Regions from separate parts of the Homo sapiens genome. Here all the other regions are reported to be linked to region 2. Evidence: microRNA targets listed by miRTarBase, many of them from high-throughput screens and not tested one by one. Region 2 holds a microRNA gene; each other region holds the end of a gene's coding sequence.

Region 1 (4,068 bases), not on the chromosome of region 2:
GATTTCTCAGAGATTTGAATCAAGGTGACCTGAATTCAGAGTGCCAGCTCTTAACCACCATGTTATGCTGACTCTTCTATTTGAGGTTTTTATAGCAATAATTTATTGGCATTATTTCTATTTAATTGAGCATCAGTAACTTTATCATCTTTGATATGTTATTTGCCATTTTTACTTTGAATTACCTATTCATACTTTCATCAACTTTTTATTAGATTTGTTTGTCTTTTTTGGTTGTTGTTTTGTAGTTGTCACTAAACAATGGAAACCAATCTATTGTTACATGTGTTGTAGGATAGGTTTAATGTAAATAAGCAGAGGTTTATAAGCATGATAAAACAACATTATTAACCTTTGGCACTATATTAGTTCTGTGTTTCTTTATATATGTATCAGTTCCTGGATGATTTGTATGAAATATTCTGTTATAAACTTTTCCTATAATTTCTCTAGCATCAATGTTATACTGTGTGTGTGTGTATATATATATATATATAGTCATGATTTATATATACATATATAAATATATATACATATGTAGTGAAATATATATATATAATATTTATATTTAAATCATTCCTTAGACTGGAGAATACTTGTGTGATAATTAGTAAATAGTAAGGCTTCTTACCAGCAAAGACAACTAAGTTTTTGTCCATCTGGACCACTTTTATCATAAAGTGCTTCCCTGATGTGTATATTAAAGAAGGTTTATGGCTTGATTTAGCTATTTTCCACAAAATTTATAAACTCATTGTATACTTTGTACACTTTTTGTCATCCTAAAAGATTTCATGCTTCTATTTTATATTTAGAGAAGAAATGGATCAAAAGACCCTGTGGAAAAAGAGAAAAATTAGAGATGATTATTTGAAGTATAGTATGTGGAATATAATTATTATTTCAAACTGTCTTCAATAAACACATTGAATTTTACCACCTATCTATTAGGTAACTAAATGATGCAGTGTCTTATTTTAAAAAAATGGACATGTATATGTACATGTATGTTTAGCAAGATTAAAAATACACTTAATCCCTTCATAATGAAATTCCTATATTATTACAACCAAAAATTAAGAACTTAACATTTGTCATTAAAGGTGAAAAATGAGAATAGAACCCACAAGAAATTTAGAATTTTTTTTTGGTTCTGTGAATAAAGATGATGGTATTTTAATGGAAATTACATTGAATTTATAGATTGCTTTTGGTAGTATGGTCTTTTTCACAATATTTATTCAAGCCACAAATGAACACAGGATGTGTTTCCATTTGTTTGCATCATCTATGATTTATTTCAGAAGTGTTTTGTGGTCTTCTTTGTGGAGAACTTTCACCTTCTTGGTTAAGTATATTTGTAAGTATTTATTTTATTATTATTATTATTATTGCAGATGCTTTAATAGGGGTTGAGGTTTTTATTTGATTCTCAGCTTTGATGTCCACATAGCCCAAGTAAGACTAAGCAAAAAAACAAACAACAACAACAAAAAAAACACACATCTGGAAGTGTCACATTACCTGACTTCAAACTATACTACAAGGCTATAGTTAACAAAACAGCATGGTACTGGTATAAAAACAGGCATGTAGACCAATGAAACAGAATAGAGAATTCAGAAATAAAACTAAATACTTATAGCCAACTAGTCTTTGACAAAGCAAACAAAAACATAAAATGGGGAAAGGAAAACCTATTCAACAAATGGTGCTGGGATAATTGGCAAGCCACATGTAGAAGAATGAAATTGGATACTCATCTCTCACCTTATACAAAGATCAACTCAAGATGAATCAAATAATTAAATCTAAGACCTGGAAGTATAAAAATTGTAGAAGATAGCATCATAAAAACTGTTCTAGACATTTGTTTAGGCAAAGACTTCATGACCAAGAACCCAAAAGCAAAGGCAACCAAAACAAAGTTAAATAGATGGAACTCAATTACACTAAACAGCTTCTGAACAGCGAAAGAGATAATCAGCAAAGTAAACAGATAACTCACAGAGTTAGAGAAAATCTTCACAAACTACACATCCCACAAAAGACTAATATCCACAATCTACAAAGTGCTGAAACAAATCAGCAAGACAAAAACAAATAATCCCTCAAAATGTGACTTAAGGACATGAATAGACAATTTACAAAAGAAGATATACAAATGGTGAATGGCCATAGTTTAAAAATCCAAAAATAATAGATGTTGGCATGGTAGTAATAAGGGAACACATTTACACTGCTGGTGGGAATGCAAGCTAGTACAACCACTATGGCAAACAATATGGATATCCCTTAAATAACTAAAAGTAGAACTGCCATTTGATCCAGCAATTCCACTGCTGGACATCTATCTAGAGGAAAATAAGTCATTATATGAAAAAGACCCATATACACACATGTTTATAGCAGCACAATTCACAATTGCAAAACTGTGGAACCAGCCTAGATTCCCATCAGTCAATGGGTGGATAAAGAAAATGTGAGATATATATATATATATATGTGTGTGTGTGTGTGTGTGTGTGTGTGTGTGTTTGTATACACATACATATATAATTATATATATATACACATACATATATAATTATATATATCTAATATATATTATATATAAATATCACATTTACTTTAGCCACTAGTTGGGGAATATATATATATACACACACATATATTATATATATATATATACACTACTCAGCCATCAAAATGGACAAAATAAACCTGGATGGAGTTGGAGACCATTATTCTAAGTGAAGTAATTCAGAAATATAAAACCAAACAATGTATGTTCTCACTTATAAGGGGGACCTAAGCTATTAGGACATAGAGGCATAAGAATGATATAATGGACTCTTGGAACTCAGAGGGAAGGGTAGGAGGGATGTGAGGGATAAAACAGTACACACTGGGTACAGTGTATACTTCTTGAGTAATGAGTGCACCAAAATCTGAAAAATCACCACTAAAGAGCTTATCCATGTAACCAAAAACCAGTTGTCACCCAAAAGCTATTGAAATACCTAAAAAACAAAGAATAAAAAAAGATGAATATTTTCAAATGAACAGAAAAATAGAATTGGCTCAAAAAACCAAACGCATTGTAAAATTAGTTCATTTTGTAGTAGAAACCAGGTAGGAGTTGCTATATTTCTAATTCCACATACTTTTCACTGGGAAATGACTTAAGCTCTAAAATGGTAAGCATTTTTATCATACCTTTTAGGAAAAAAAATGACGTTGAAGCACGATGCACAATAAAAGCCAAGCAGCACTAATCATCTCAAAATATCAAGAGGAAGAGACTTTCTATACAATTTAATTATTTATTAGCTTCCTCAACAACAGTTAAAACAACACAATCCTGCATGAAATGGATCCAAAGTATGCTGAGTATTTGCAAAACAGTACTGATACTGTCAGTGGACTTCTTAATGTTCTTGTTTCCATGTACAATGTGTGACATGTAGTTAAGCTTAGTAAATTTTTTTTCATGTAACCTGTGAATTGGAACAATAAATTTCAATATAAGCTCAATACATTTCAATATAACCTCATATGGCTTTATATCATTTTTGTTTTCCCTAATGTTTTCCTCCTTGACATGAAATATTTCTAATGGTTAAACAGGTACTAAAACAAATTTTGACTTGACAAGGTAAGTTTTGAAAGATGTTTTGTCACAAGAAGAAAGGAATCTCTTGTATCACAACGTCTTCTTGTTGTAATAAACTAAAGGAGTTCATTTATTGGGTTTCCCAGCTTCCAGCCTCAGACGTAATTAATCTCTTTTCCCCTTCTTTCCTGTTCTAACAAACTTCCAGACACAAAACAGACATTTTGTGATGATGAATATCACAGTTGCCACACAGGCCAGCAGGAACCCAGTCACATCCAAAGAGTGGTACTGGAACCAGGTGAGGTCGTGGGCTGCAACCCGAAGGTGCTTGGCTCCTTTATGGCGCATGACAAATTCAATCCAGAAGACTGCTCGATCAAGGGGCTTCACTGGTTGATCATGATGAATTCTTGATAATTTCATAGCATTCTCTTTATATCTAAACGATA
Region 2 (4,069 bases):
ATGAAAATAGCATGGGGAAAACCGCCCCCATGATTCAATTACCTCCCACCAGGTTCCTCCCACAACATGTGGGGATTATGGGAACTACAATTCAAGATGAGAAGTGGGTGGGTACACAGCCAAACTATATCATCTGCATAGCAGGTGGCCTTGTCTCCCCATTCCTGGGCTCCCCCAGGGCAACCTGTCCCCCATCCCACTCACGAGGCTTCCCTCTAGGAAGCCGCTAAGAAGAGACCTGCCACCCACCTGCTTGCTCCACTTTGAGTGGGAACCACACCAGGGTCAACCTCAGAAACATCTGAAAAGTTGGAAGTAAATTCAGCAGTCTAGCAAAAGCAGTCTTCTGCAACTGAGGAATCCAGGTTGAGCGCTGCCATGACCTGTATTTGAAAAGCTGCCACCTTCCAATCAGGCCAGAGTTAAAGAGCAATTTGAAAAGAGCAAGAATTTCCAAGCTATAAAACTAGGGACATGATTCTAAGAGGATAAAACATTTTAAGATTGGTTTAAAAGCTTTTGAAAAATTTAAGGCCAGGCATGGCAGCTCACATCTATAATCATAGAGCTTTGGGAGGCCGAGGTGGGAGGATTGCTTGAGGTCAGGAATTTGACACCAGCTTGGGCAACACGGGGAGACCCCATCTCTACGATTTTTATTTTTTTTTTAATTAGCTGGACTTGGCTGGGTGTGGTGGCTCATGCCTGTAATCCCAGCACTTTGAGAGGCTGAGGCGGACGGATCACAAGGTCAGGAGTTCCAGACCAGCCTGGCCAATATGGTGAAACCCTGTCTCTACTAAAAATACAAAAATTAGCTGGGCGTAGTAGCACATGCTTGTAGTCCCAGCTACTCAGGAGGCTGAGGCAGGACAATCACTTGAACTTGAGAGACAGAGGTTGCTGTGAGCCGAGATCGCGCCACTGCACTACGGCCTCGGTGACAAAGTGAGATTCCATCTCAGAAAAAAAAAAAAAAAAAGCTGGACTTGATGGCATGTGCCAGTAGTTCCAGCTACTAGGGAGGCTGAGGTGGGAGCATCACTTGAGTCCAGGACTTCAAGGTTACAGGGGCTATGATTGTGCCACTGCACTCCAGCCTGGGTGACAAAGCGAGACCCTGTCTCTTAAAAATTTTTTGTTTTTAAATTCAAACCCAGTTTTCCTCAGGACTCTTATTAACAGCTATCTAAGGAATAGGAAGGGATGCCCTCAAACCGGGCAGAACGAGATGGAATTCTAAGTCATTTTGTCTTTTGCATTTCTGAAAAGACTTTCATTTTTCAAAGGACATCAAAACTGAAATGCCTTATAAATCCCTTTGTGTTTCTGCGTTCTGTTCAATGGCATCAATAAGATGGATGATCAGCAAATGGCATCAAACTCCATTTGTATTCTTATTAGAATAATAACACGTAAAATGATATGAAATGAAACAGCAGATTCCAATGACCTTGTAGCCCAATTCAATTACTATTTCACTAAATAACGACAAAACTGACAGTCCTCAAGCTGCTGAATTTATGAATTAAATTCAACTTCTCTTCTACATTCTGAGCAGGACTGAGTGGAAAAAGAAATGGTCAGTGAGGACTGGGGAGGAGTTTCCTTCTCTTTGCTATTTAATGCAACATCGCCAAGCCCACTGGAGGGAGGGGTATGGAAAGACAGTTTAAAAAGGAATATCAGGACCAGAAGGGAGAACTGATGGCCAGGGCCCTTGCTATAGTTTGCTCCTGCAGATGAGACACTGCTTTGGAAAATTTTATCATTAACCAAACTGCACTGATGCTAAAAGTCAATAAAGCCAAGTATTAAGTTGGAGCAAAAGTAATTGCAGTGTGTGCCATTACTTTTAAATGGGAAGCACTGCAATTACTTTTGCACCAAACCAACAGCATCAATCTTGCCTGCATCTTAAGCAAAGGCTTAATGAGAAAAAAAACATACTTGAGACTACTAAAGCATTATACAGTCAGTCCTCATTACTAGCAGATTCTGTATTTGTAAATATGCCCATCACCTAAAATCTGTTTGTGACCCTCAAATTAATACTCCCAAATGTTTGCAGTCATCATAGACATGGCAGGACAGTGGACAACTGGAGTTTCCCAACAAGCACGTTCCCAGGTGGCGTCTAACTAAACAACACTCTGCTTTTTTGTTTCAGTTTTCATACTGTAAGGAAGCACCCTTTCCACAGTCTTTTTAGTGCCACAAGTTTCGCATTTTTGTGTCTTTTTGTGTCTGTGTGTGCACCTGCATGCGTGTATGTGTGTGTGAGTGACTTCACTATTTAAAATGGTCCAAGCCAGGTGCAGTGGCTCATGCCTGAAATCCCAGCACTTTGGGAGGCTAAGGCAAGAGAATTGCTTTGTGACAGGAGTTCAAGACCAGCCTGGAATATACTAGTCATGTTCATTGGGGAATTAAGACCTCAAAAACATAGCCAGACCCTGCCTCTACAAAAAAATAAAATTAAAAAATTAGCTGGGCATGGTGGCGTGTGCCTGTAGTCCCAGATATTTGGGAGGCTGAGGTGGGAAGATCACTTGAGCCCAGGAGTTTGAGGCTCCAGTGAGTTGTGATTGTGTCACTGCACTCCAGCCTGGTCAAGAGGGCGAGACCCGGCATCTACAAATTTTTTCTTTAAATAAGAAAAGAGAATAAATTTTAAAAATAAGAAATAAAATGAAATGGCCCTTAAGTATGGTGTGGAAGTACTATTTGGCATTCCTAGGCTCAAGAAGGCTGTGATACACCTTACACAAAAAATAAGTGCATTAGATAAGCTTAGTTCAATGCTAATGAATCAATAATATATATTTTAAAAGGTGTCTTCAAACAAAAACACAGGTAAAATAAGGATTTTTGTTGATTGGTTGATAAAAAGGTAACCAAAGACTCACAGGAACCTAACCCTGTATTTCCCCTAGGAAATTCAGTATTAACTAATAAATTCAGGACTCACTAATGCAGTATTTAGGGCAAGTTTATAGAACATCAATACTGTGAATAACAAGAATTGACTGTATTTTCAAACTGCAGTAAAAATGCCATAAGTATGTAAAATAGGACTTGTAGGAAGACAACAAAGTATATTTAGATGTAGCAGGTTCATCTTTTTTACTTTTTTTGCAGATGTGAGAACTTGACAATTTCTAACCACTGGACTTAGAATGGAGAACACAGCCAATCTGGGTGACAGAGCAATATTCCGTCTCAAAAAAAAAAAAAAATTAGCTGGACTTGGTGGCATGCACCAGTAGTTCTAGTTACTTGGGAGGCTGAGGTGGCTGGTCATGAACTCCTGACCTCAAGTCTCCCAAAATGCTGGGATTATAGGTGTGAGCCATTGTGCCTGGCCAGCAATGGCAATATTTTCTTACTACCAACTCTCAGAAAACATACATTATTCTCCATAATTATCCAATAAATTTGGACCCATCTGAAAATAAGCATCAGTCACTTTTCAGTTTATACATGTATGCTATTAGTCATTACTCTGGTAATATGTGAAATGTAAATCATTGCCTTATTACTTACTGGATATGGGCTGTTTTTTGGTTGAGGTATGCGTCTAATTTATTGGTACTACATTAGAAAATGCCCTACACCAAATATCTGCTCTGATTGGACTAAGATCCTACATTTTTATATTTGGGAATATTGCTCAACTTGAGAAAGGCAAGATGTCCCAATCCCTGCAACAGTAACTTGGACTTTTTTTTTTTTTTTGAGACAGAGTCTTGTTCTGTCGCCCAGGCTAGAACACAGTGGCACGATCTCGGCTCACTGCAACCTCCATCTCGTGTGCTCAGGCGATTCTCCAGCCTCAAGCCTCCCGAGTAGCTGTGATTACAGGCATGTGCCACCACACCCGGCTGATATTTGCATTTTTAGTAGAGACAGGGTTTCACTATGTTGGCCAGGCTGGTCTCGAACTCCTGACCTCAGGTGATCCACCCACCTTGGCCTCCCAAAGTGCTTGGATTACAGGCATGAGCCATGGCGTCCAGCCAATAACTTGGACTTCTAATTAAAGATGTGACGTGGGCCAGTTATGCAT
Region 3 (4,068 bases), not on the chromosome of region 2:
TACGTGCTGGCTGACTGATTGCATCTCTCTGCCCAAGGTTCATTGTGGGATCAGACCGTGCTATCTTCATGCTTCGCGATGGGAGCTACGCCTGGGAGATCAAGGACTTTTTGGTCGGTCAAGACAGGTGTGCTGATGTAACTCTGGAGGGCCAGGTGTACCCCGGCAAAGGAGGAGGAAGCAAAGAGAAAAATAAAACAAAGCAAGACAAGGGCAAAAAAAAGAAGGAAGGAGATCTGAAATCTCGGTCTTCCAAGGAAGAAAATCGAGCTGGGAATAAAAGAGAAGACCTGTGATGGGGCAGCAGTGACGCGCTGTGGGGGGACAGGTGGACGTGGAGAGCTCTTTGCCCAGCTCCTGGGGTGGGAGTGGTCTCAGGCAACTGCACACCGGATGACATTCTAGTGTCTTCTAGAAAGGGTCTGCCACATGACCAGTTTGTGGTCAAAGAATTACTGCTTAATAGGCTTCAAGTAAGAAGACAGATGTTTTCTAATTAATACTGGACACTGACAAATTCATGTTTACTATAAAATCTCCTTACATGGAAATGTGACTGTGTTGCTTTTTCCCATTTACACTTGGTGAGTCATCAACTCTACTGAGATTCCACTCCCCTCCAAGCACCTGCTGTGATTGGGTGGCCTGCTCTGATCAGATAGCAAATTCTGATCAGAGAAGACTTTAAAACTCTTGACTTAATTGAGTAAACTCTTCATGCCATATACATCATTTTCATTATGTTAAAGGTAAAATATGCTTTGTGAACTCAGATGTCTGTAGCCAGGAAGCCAGGGTGTGTAAATCCAAAATCTATGCAGGAAATGCGGAGAATAGAAAATATGTCACTTGAAATCCTAAGTAGTTTTGAATTTCTTTGACTTGAATCTTACTCATCAGTAAGAGAACTCTTGGTGTCTGTCAGGTTTTATGTGGTCTGTAAAGTTAGGGGTTCTGTTTTGTTTCCTTATTTAGGAAAGAGTACTGCTGGTGTCGAGGGGTTATATGTTCCATTTAATGTGACAGTTTTAAAGGATTTAAGTAGGGAATCAGAGTCCTTTGCAGAGTGTGACAGACGACTCAATAACCTCATTTGTTTCTAAACATTTTTCTTTGATAAAGTGCCTAAATCTGTGCTTTCGTATAGAGTAACATGATGTGCTACTGTTGATGTCTGATTTTGCCGTTCATGTTAGAGCCTACTGTGAATAAGAGTTAGAACATTTATATACAGATGTCATTTCTAAGAACTAAAATTCTTTGGGAAAAACCCTCAATTGTGATTTTAATAAATTAAAAGTAGCACATTACATGGTTAGAAAATGTCAGTGTTAAAGAATGGTACAAAGTGAAAAGTGTATCCCTCTCTTGCCGCCGGTGGTAGCTTGTCCCAGTGGAAGCTGCTGTTAACAATTTGTGCCCCCACATCCCCCTCCCTGCCCATCCACCAAAAAAAAGTACATTTACTTATGTAAATGTACTTATGGTGATGTATGTTTGTTTTGGCCTCACAGCATCTGTTTCCCCTTAATTTGGTAGCTGCTCACATTTCCCTCGAAAGAACCACACCCTCTGCATTCTCAGTTCTCTGCTTTGGATGGGACATTTGCCCTGCAGTCCCCCCACCCTCCAGGCCATGCCCTCTCCAGGGTGAGGCCTGTGTGATCTACCGTACTAGGGTACTAGGCCCTGAAAGAGGCTTTTCTTGTTCCTCCTGCATCTTGAACCTGGAGCGGGAGCTGTTGTAGGCCCCGCCCTTGGAGAAGAGAACTGTCTGACAGTGGGGAGAGAGCGCCACACCCTGGTGGCATAAACGAGTCCCTGAATCATGCCGTGGCTGAACCAAGCCCTGTCTGTGGGCTTTTTCTGTTGTACTCAGGGCAGTTTGATGGGGTTACTGTCCTGCATAGCCATAATGGCCCAGTATAAAGCAGCTGTTTTGATGAGATAATTGCTTTAATTAAGCAAAAGGTAGCAAAGCTTTCACTCCGCCCTGTACCTTCTGTTTCCACTTAGGAGCCTTCCCATGTCAGAATGTGCAGATCTGTCTCATTGTTTCCTGTGCAGTGTGCCCCCACTTCACCCAGTAGTTTCTGTGTGTCTGTTATGTACTAGGTACTACAAGGTGCCAGGACGGTGTAGATACAGCCTCTGCTATCGTAAAACTCAATGATTCGGTGGGGGAAGACAAATGTCAGTAATGTACAAAGTAAAATGGCAGCTGTTAGAAGTATGAAAGGGGCAGGGTAGGGGGAGGTAGAATCTTCCCTGACCAGGTTAAGAAAACCAGAGGCCTTCTCTGAGGGCAAGAGGAGGAGAGGAGAAATAGAGTAAGGCAGGCAGAGGAAACAGTCTGAGCTAAGACCCTGTGGCTAGAAGTGGCAGAGGGAGAGGCAGCAGGAAGGCCAGCGGGGAGGCTGGGGCCCAGTGCAGGCCCAGGTTGGAGGAGCGTAGCACATGGAGTTTGGTAGGAGTTTGGGACGCCCTGGTGGATCTTAATTGTGATGGGGTGGGTGTGAAAGGCAGTCCAGGTTGCACTGGTTGCACAGGAGAAGTGATCAGAAGAGGACCCCAGCAGGTGTGAGCCGTGAGCTGGGAGGTGCTTCAGTAGTGCAGGCCATAGCTGAAGGTGTCCTACATCAGCAGGGTGATGGTGAGGTTTGAACCACTGTTTCACTGCATAGTCCCTGCTGATGGACACTTGAGTGTTCAGATTTTTTGCTGGTATATTCAGTGCTGCAGTGGACATTTTCATACAAAATATTTCGGTACACTTTTGTTTATATCTGAAAGGTAAATTCCTAGCAGTAGAATTATTAGAGCAAACGGAATTTAACATTTTGGTGTGTATTGCCAAATTGCCCTCCCAAGTGGTTTAGTCAGCTTACCCTTGCCAACAATAGATCTATCCTTGCCAGCCTTGGGCATCACATTTACCAGTTTAATAGATTGTAAAACCATATCTTAATTGGCTACCCTGAAGCCACCATACTGGAGAGGCTGCGTACAGTGTTTCACGTAGAGAGAGGGATACCCAGGAGGCCCACCTGCTCCAACCCCAGCTGCATGAGTCTTCCCAGCCCAGGCACAGACATGTGGATAAGATTTAAACATTTCCAGCCCCAGCCTTCAAGCAATCCTAGTTGACACTGAGGGGAGCCAACATAAGCTGAGCTGAGAAACAGTCTGCCCAGTCTGCAGATTCATGAGCAAAAGAAATGTTGGGCTGGGTACAGTGGCTCACGCCTGTAATCCCAGTACTTTGGGAGGCCGAGGTGGGTGGATCAGTTGAGGTCAGGAGTTTGAGACCAGCCTGGCCAACATGGTGAAGCCCTGTCTCTACTAAAAATTAGCCGAGTGTGGTGGTGCGGGCCTGTAATCCCAGCTACTCAGGTGGCTGAGGCAGGAGAATGGCTTGAACCCGGGAGGCGGAGGTTGCAGTGAGCCAAGATCAGGCCACTGCACTCCAGCCTGGATGACGGGATGAGACTCTGTCTCAAAAAAACGAAACAAAAATTTTTTAAGAGAAATGTCATTTGTTTTTGTTTTTGAGACAGGGTCTCACTCTGTTGCCCTCACTAGAGTGCAGTAGGATCACGGCTCACTGAAGTCTCTACCTACCGGCTCAATTGATCTTCCCACCACAGCCTCCCAAATAGCTGGGAGAAATGTCCTGTTTTTAATGAATTTGTCTTCCTTTTTGTCTTGTTTGTTTTAATATCTAGTGATCTAATAAATTTGGATGATATCTTTTGACTATCAATTATGAAACCTGTATCAGATATACACATCTTTCCTTCTTCATCCTCAGGCTTTCTGGTTTTGATGGTGATACTGTGGCTTTTGTACTTCTGGTGGTTTCCCTTATACTGTTAAACCTCTTTTTTTTTTTTAAATTAAACCAACTTAGTATGCATTAACCACTGAACAAGGGAAAGGAACTCACAAACTTTTTCCTGTGTCCCTGATTATTGTTTAATAGTGTTTGTATACTGACAAGATACATAATATCCACCTTCTGCACCCACAGTGTCCGCCTTTATGCTTGGACAAGAGCATGCAGGGTAG
Region 4 (4,068 bases), not on the chromosome of region 2:
AACTTTATAGTAATTTTTGCTAAAGGAAGTTCCTAGTAAGCAGTTATTTGCCTTTGGTAAACTTAATTTTAGATGAAAACTATGCACAAAAAAACAATTGTCTTATGATTAGACCTTCAAGTTAGGAGGTGAATAGTCTATGCAGCATAAGACAAACCATAACTCTTACCTTTAAATTTTCTCATTTGACAAGAACTATCAAATTCCTTTTTAAAAGAGTACACATATACGTTTTTAATTTGGAAATTTCATATTCGGTAAAAATTCAAATTTTAATTACTGTGGAATTTTGACAACTCCAGCAATGGCAAAGCTGAATTTATTTCACTATTATCTATCAAAAAGCAAGTAACATTATAAGATTCCAAATGTTTAACCTGGTAAAAGTGAGAATATATTTCAATCAAGAGCATACCATCTAAAAAAAACACTATTGCTATCTAGTCATATGCATTTCTTATTACATTTTTGCAGCCCCTAAGTGTTCAGAACAAATGTAGCATTCACATAATACTATAGTCAATGAAAAGAGTATATTCTTTTATTGGTTTTTGTTCATACATGTTAAGTTTCAACTTTCAATAATAAAATTCAATAAATTTGATTCCTTAATCATAAAAACTGGCTTTACACATTATTTACATATTGTCAAAGTCCATACAAAACATCACAAGGATTTGATTGACTCTATGCATGGTACCATCACACAGGAGGAGGGAGCTAATCCAGTAACATACATTCAAAGATTAAATTGCAGATATGCACAGTGTATTTGGCACTGTTCATTAATATTATAACACCTTCCTCTCAAAGACAGGCATTCTTAAGCGTTAGTCACGATATACCAGAATTTGCTATTCACATTAAAACCACCTTTTAAACTTTATAACAGTAACCGATTATTATAGTTTTAAGAAACAAAACACAATGAGAACTGGGAATGGAATTCAAATCCTCCAACTTCTTGCTATGCTCCAAGCTGCCATCCATAAAACAGGTTTAATTCGGTAATTTTTCCATTGTGGGGAGTGTCAACAAGAAACAATTTAAAGACAGTATTTTCCAATACAAATAAAGACACATACTTTTGTTTAAAATTACCAGTTCTTCTTGGGAGTGCAAAGGGAGCCTTGATGATGTACAACTTGTGATGCTTTTGGCAGGAATTACAGAACAACCAATGCCATTCAAGTTGTGGAGATTGTACTAGCAGGTGAACTCATAAAGAGAAGGTTCTGGAATGACTACATCTGAAATCAGAATCCTAGTAGTTTGTAGTTTGCCTCTTCCTAGAACTTCAAGAGACTCAAATCATAGGCTACAGATGTACTTTCAAGTATATACTTATGAATGGAAGGAGAAAATAAAAGCACGAAAATGCAAATATTAAACCTTTACTGGCTTGGGCTATATTCCAGTAGGTAATTTATTTGACTAACTTAACTTTAACAACGATTAAATCCCTTCATTTTAATCAGGTCCATTAAATTTCATTCATTAAAGCTATACATACTCCAGAATGTTTATAAGACATTTATACCTATCATGTTTACAAAAGGCATAAATTCAGTCTTCAGCTGCACTACAAATGCCTCAATATAATATAATCACAGTATAAGGAATCAGAAATTCTCTGGTTAGATATGCTGTAGCTTCACACAAAACTCTCAGTAATAAATTAAAACAAAAAAAAAAAGTCGTACAACGTATAATGGATTATGCAGTGCAAAGTAATGTCACTGGACCAAAATTTAGTTTAATCATTTTTATTTCAAGTGTATTTAAAAAATCATAAATGGGGTTTCATAATCCAAAGTTGAAACATTTATTCTTCATAGCTTCAGAATTTAACAACCAATTGTAGACCATGCTTTCCAAATCCAGTCTTCTTTGCTATTTTTCAAAACTTCTGAGATCTAGTATTAAACTGCTCCATTCTAAATGTATAGTTTTAGATAAGTATTGTACACTTGTTGATAAGGGTTTTCTGAAAGCAGTCTATCAAATATAAAGAATGGTTTCTATCTAAGAATCAGCAGTGAGGGAAGAAATATTAAACACCTATCAAGAAATCAATTATTCATTTTAAAAATAACAGAACCAGTGCTGCTCTCTGTCATAAAAGAGAACATGTAAAATTTATTTTTATAGACTTTGGTAATATTTTATTCCCCCACAGAGGCCTTCAATCCTACTTAAAGATATTTTACACACAGTAACCATCAGGATTTACTGAGTAAAAATCTCAGGTATTAACCATGCCCCTAAAATGTGCTATTCCAAAGAGGAACAGGTTACTTTTGAGGAAAAAAGCTGCCTTGGTAACTTCCCTCAAATGTTTATTTTAAATAAAAATGGTTGATGGAAATATTTTTTAAAAGAACTTTGGGTATAATATGGCATACTGCCCATCAAACAAAAAAGGAAATAAAACTTTCTTTCCATTTATAATAAGTTTTCCACCTTTACTATCAAGATTACAACTTATTGACCTTTTATGCTTGCTTGGTTTTTTTGACTGCCTAATCCAATGTTTAAATTTTTAAGTCTGCATTTCAATGTAGTAGGAGTTATTTTTCAAATAATCTTCAGAACCCAGAATACAGAGCAACTCTCAGAATACCAGAGCAACACTCTCAAGTCATACTTTTGAACCCAGAATACCAGAATACCAGACTTCAGAACCCAGAATACCAGAGCAACACTCTCAAGTCATACTTTTGACTACAATTAAGAGATGAAAATGGACGGATATCTGAAGATAGGTATTCCCTCTGCTCTGAAGGTGAGCAAGATTTTAACATGTGAGCAACACAGAACTCCACTCCTCTGGAGCTCCTTTCAACTCAGAATGCTTCAGTTCAGTAAGTCAATATATTATTCTTAAAAATTAAAGTTTGGTCACTAAGAAGGACTGAACAAAAATTATTCCCCTCCCGCCAAACACAACCAGAACAGTTCTAATCAGGCCCTCTTCTCCCCACAAAAATAGGGAAGTAGCTGGGCTGAAGACTTTAAGTGTGACATTTCAGTTCCTAAAACATCACTGCTATTTGCTCAAAGTTGTAGGTCTATGTATTTCCTTCTCCAATACGTCCCCATTTATAAGTTTATTTCCATACATACAAACGTGCACATGTGTGCACGTGCACACGCACACACACACACTCACTCTCAAGTAAGACACTTTTTTGTGTTTGTTGATAAATTATGAGGATTATGAACTAGGTGTGTACAGGGTTTCATAGGTGCTTTGTAAACATCAGAGTCACTTGGTTCCTTTCCTCCACAAGCCTCAAATCAAATTATGCAACCAATGACCACTACTTTCCCAGACGCTGTTCACAGGCTGCATATTGACGAAGGGCAGAGAAAAAGTCCTCATAACTGATGTTTAGGTGGGAAGGCAAAGAGCTGAAAAGAAAACACGGGGGGAGAAAAGCAATTAGATATACACTGTAATGTAGGGGGGAACCAGAAGATAAGGACCAAAAAGAAGTTAAGAATAGAATACACCAAATTATCCTCCACCAGACAGCACCATGACAGGCACGGAAAATGTCTTAATCATAATATGTAGACTGAAAGGGTGGGGCCCTGACAGAACTGACTGGGAAATAGCAGAGAGCCTCTGAGGCACCGAGGGGTAGTGGCACTCACTGTTTATTGACGAGTGTTCATTGAAGATAGCTATTCCCTCTGCTCTGAGGGTAAATTATAAGCAGAATATGCCAAACAATTCTACTAAGATTGTTCAGCTCATTGTGGACAATGAGATGACAAGGACACACAATGTCATCATCAACTAAAAAATTAATATGCCTCTTTTTCCACAAGAAAAGCAACTAGTAATGAGAGATTCATAACTTGTTAAAGCGTAAGCTCAGATTAATGCAAAGCTAGAGATCTATGTATAAAGGATCTCATTTAAATCCATTAAAGAATTTCTCCTTGGTCAGAGTAAAGCCAATATTACTTAGTTTAGGAAAGCCATGCTTAATGTTGGGCAGAGCCACACAGCATCCAAACATGATGAAATATTGTAGCCATGTTGTGAGCAACCTAGAA

Evidence for each region. Region 2 holds the annotated microRNA hsa-miR-603 (CACACACUGCAAUUACUUUUGC, at 1,825-1,846, opposite strand). A microRNA usually pairs through its seed, bases 2 to 8, with sites in the 3' UTR of a target mRNA and lowers its output. Matches are read on the target gene's strand: a 7mer-m8 pairs with bases 2 to 8, a 7mer-A1 pairs with bases 2 to 7 and ends in A, and an 8mer does both.
Region 1: the mRNA of UGT2B4 is a reported target of hsa-miR-603. The part of its 3' UTR that is shown has no 7-base or 8-base seed match.
Region 3: the mRNA of MESD is a reported target of hsa-miR-603. Seed matches in the 3' UTR shown: 7mer-A1 at 797-803 and 7mer-A1 at 2,844-2,850.
Region 4: the mRNA of NUS1 is a reported target of hsa-miR-603. Seed matches in the 3' UTR shown: 7mer-m8 at 3,163-3,169 and 7mer-A1 at 2,208-2,214.

Annotation. Positions count from the first base shown.
Region 1 is chr4:69,476,853-69,480,920 of GRCh38, forward strand. It overlaps UGT2B4 (UDP glucuronosyltransferase family 2 member B4), which reads right to left. Exons shown (of 6, transcript NM_021139.3): 6 at 3,313-4,058. The coding sequence ends at 3,782. Among named protein-coding and RNA genes, the nearest start is that of UGT2B4, 17 kb to the right of the region's middle.
Region 2 is chr10:24,273,522-24,277,590 of GRCh38, reverse strand. It overlaps MIR603 (microRNA 603), which reads right to left and starts at 1,906; the gene lies at 1,810-1,906. The region is part of intron 2 of KIAA1217; the gene reads right to left.
Region 3 is chr15:80,975,447-80,979,514 of GRCh38, reverse strand. MESD (mesoderm development LRP chaperone) reads left to right here. Exons shown (of 3, transcript NM_015154.3): 3 at 38-3,763. The coding sequence ends at 296. Among named protein-coding and RNA genes, the nearest start is that of MESD, 12 kb to the left of the region's middle. RefSeq lists silencers at 493-787, 1,653-1,947.
Region 4 is chr6:117,706,271-117,710,338 of GRCh38, reverse strand. NUS1 (NUS1 dehydrodolichyl diphosphate synthase subunit) reads right to left here. Exons shown (of 5, transcript NM_138459.5): 5 at 1-3,414. The coding sequence ends at 3,324. Among named protein-coding and RNA genes, the nearest start is that of NUS1, 33 kb to the right of the region's middle.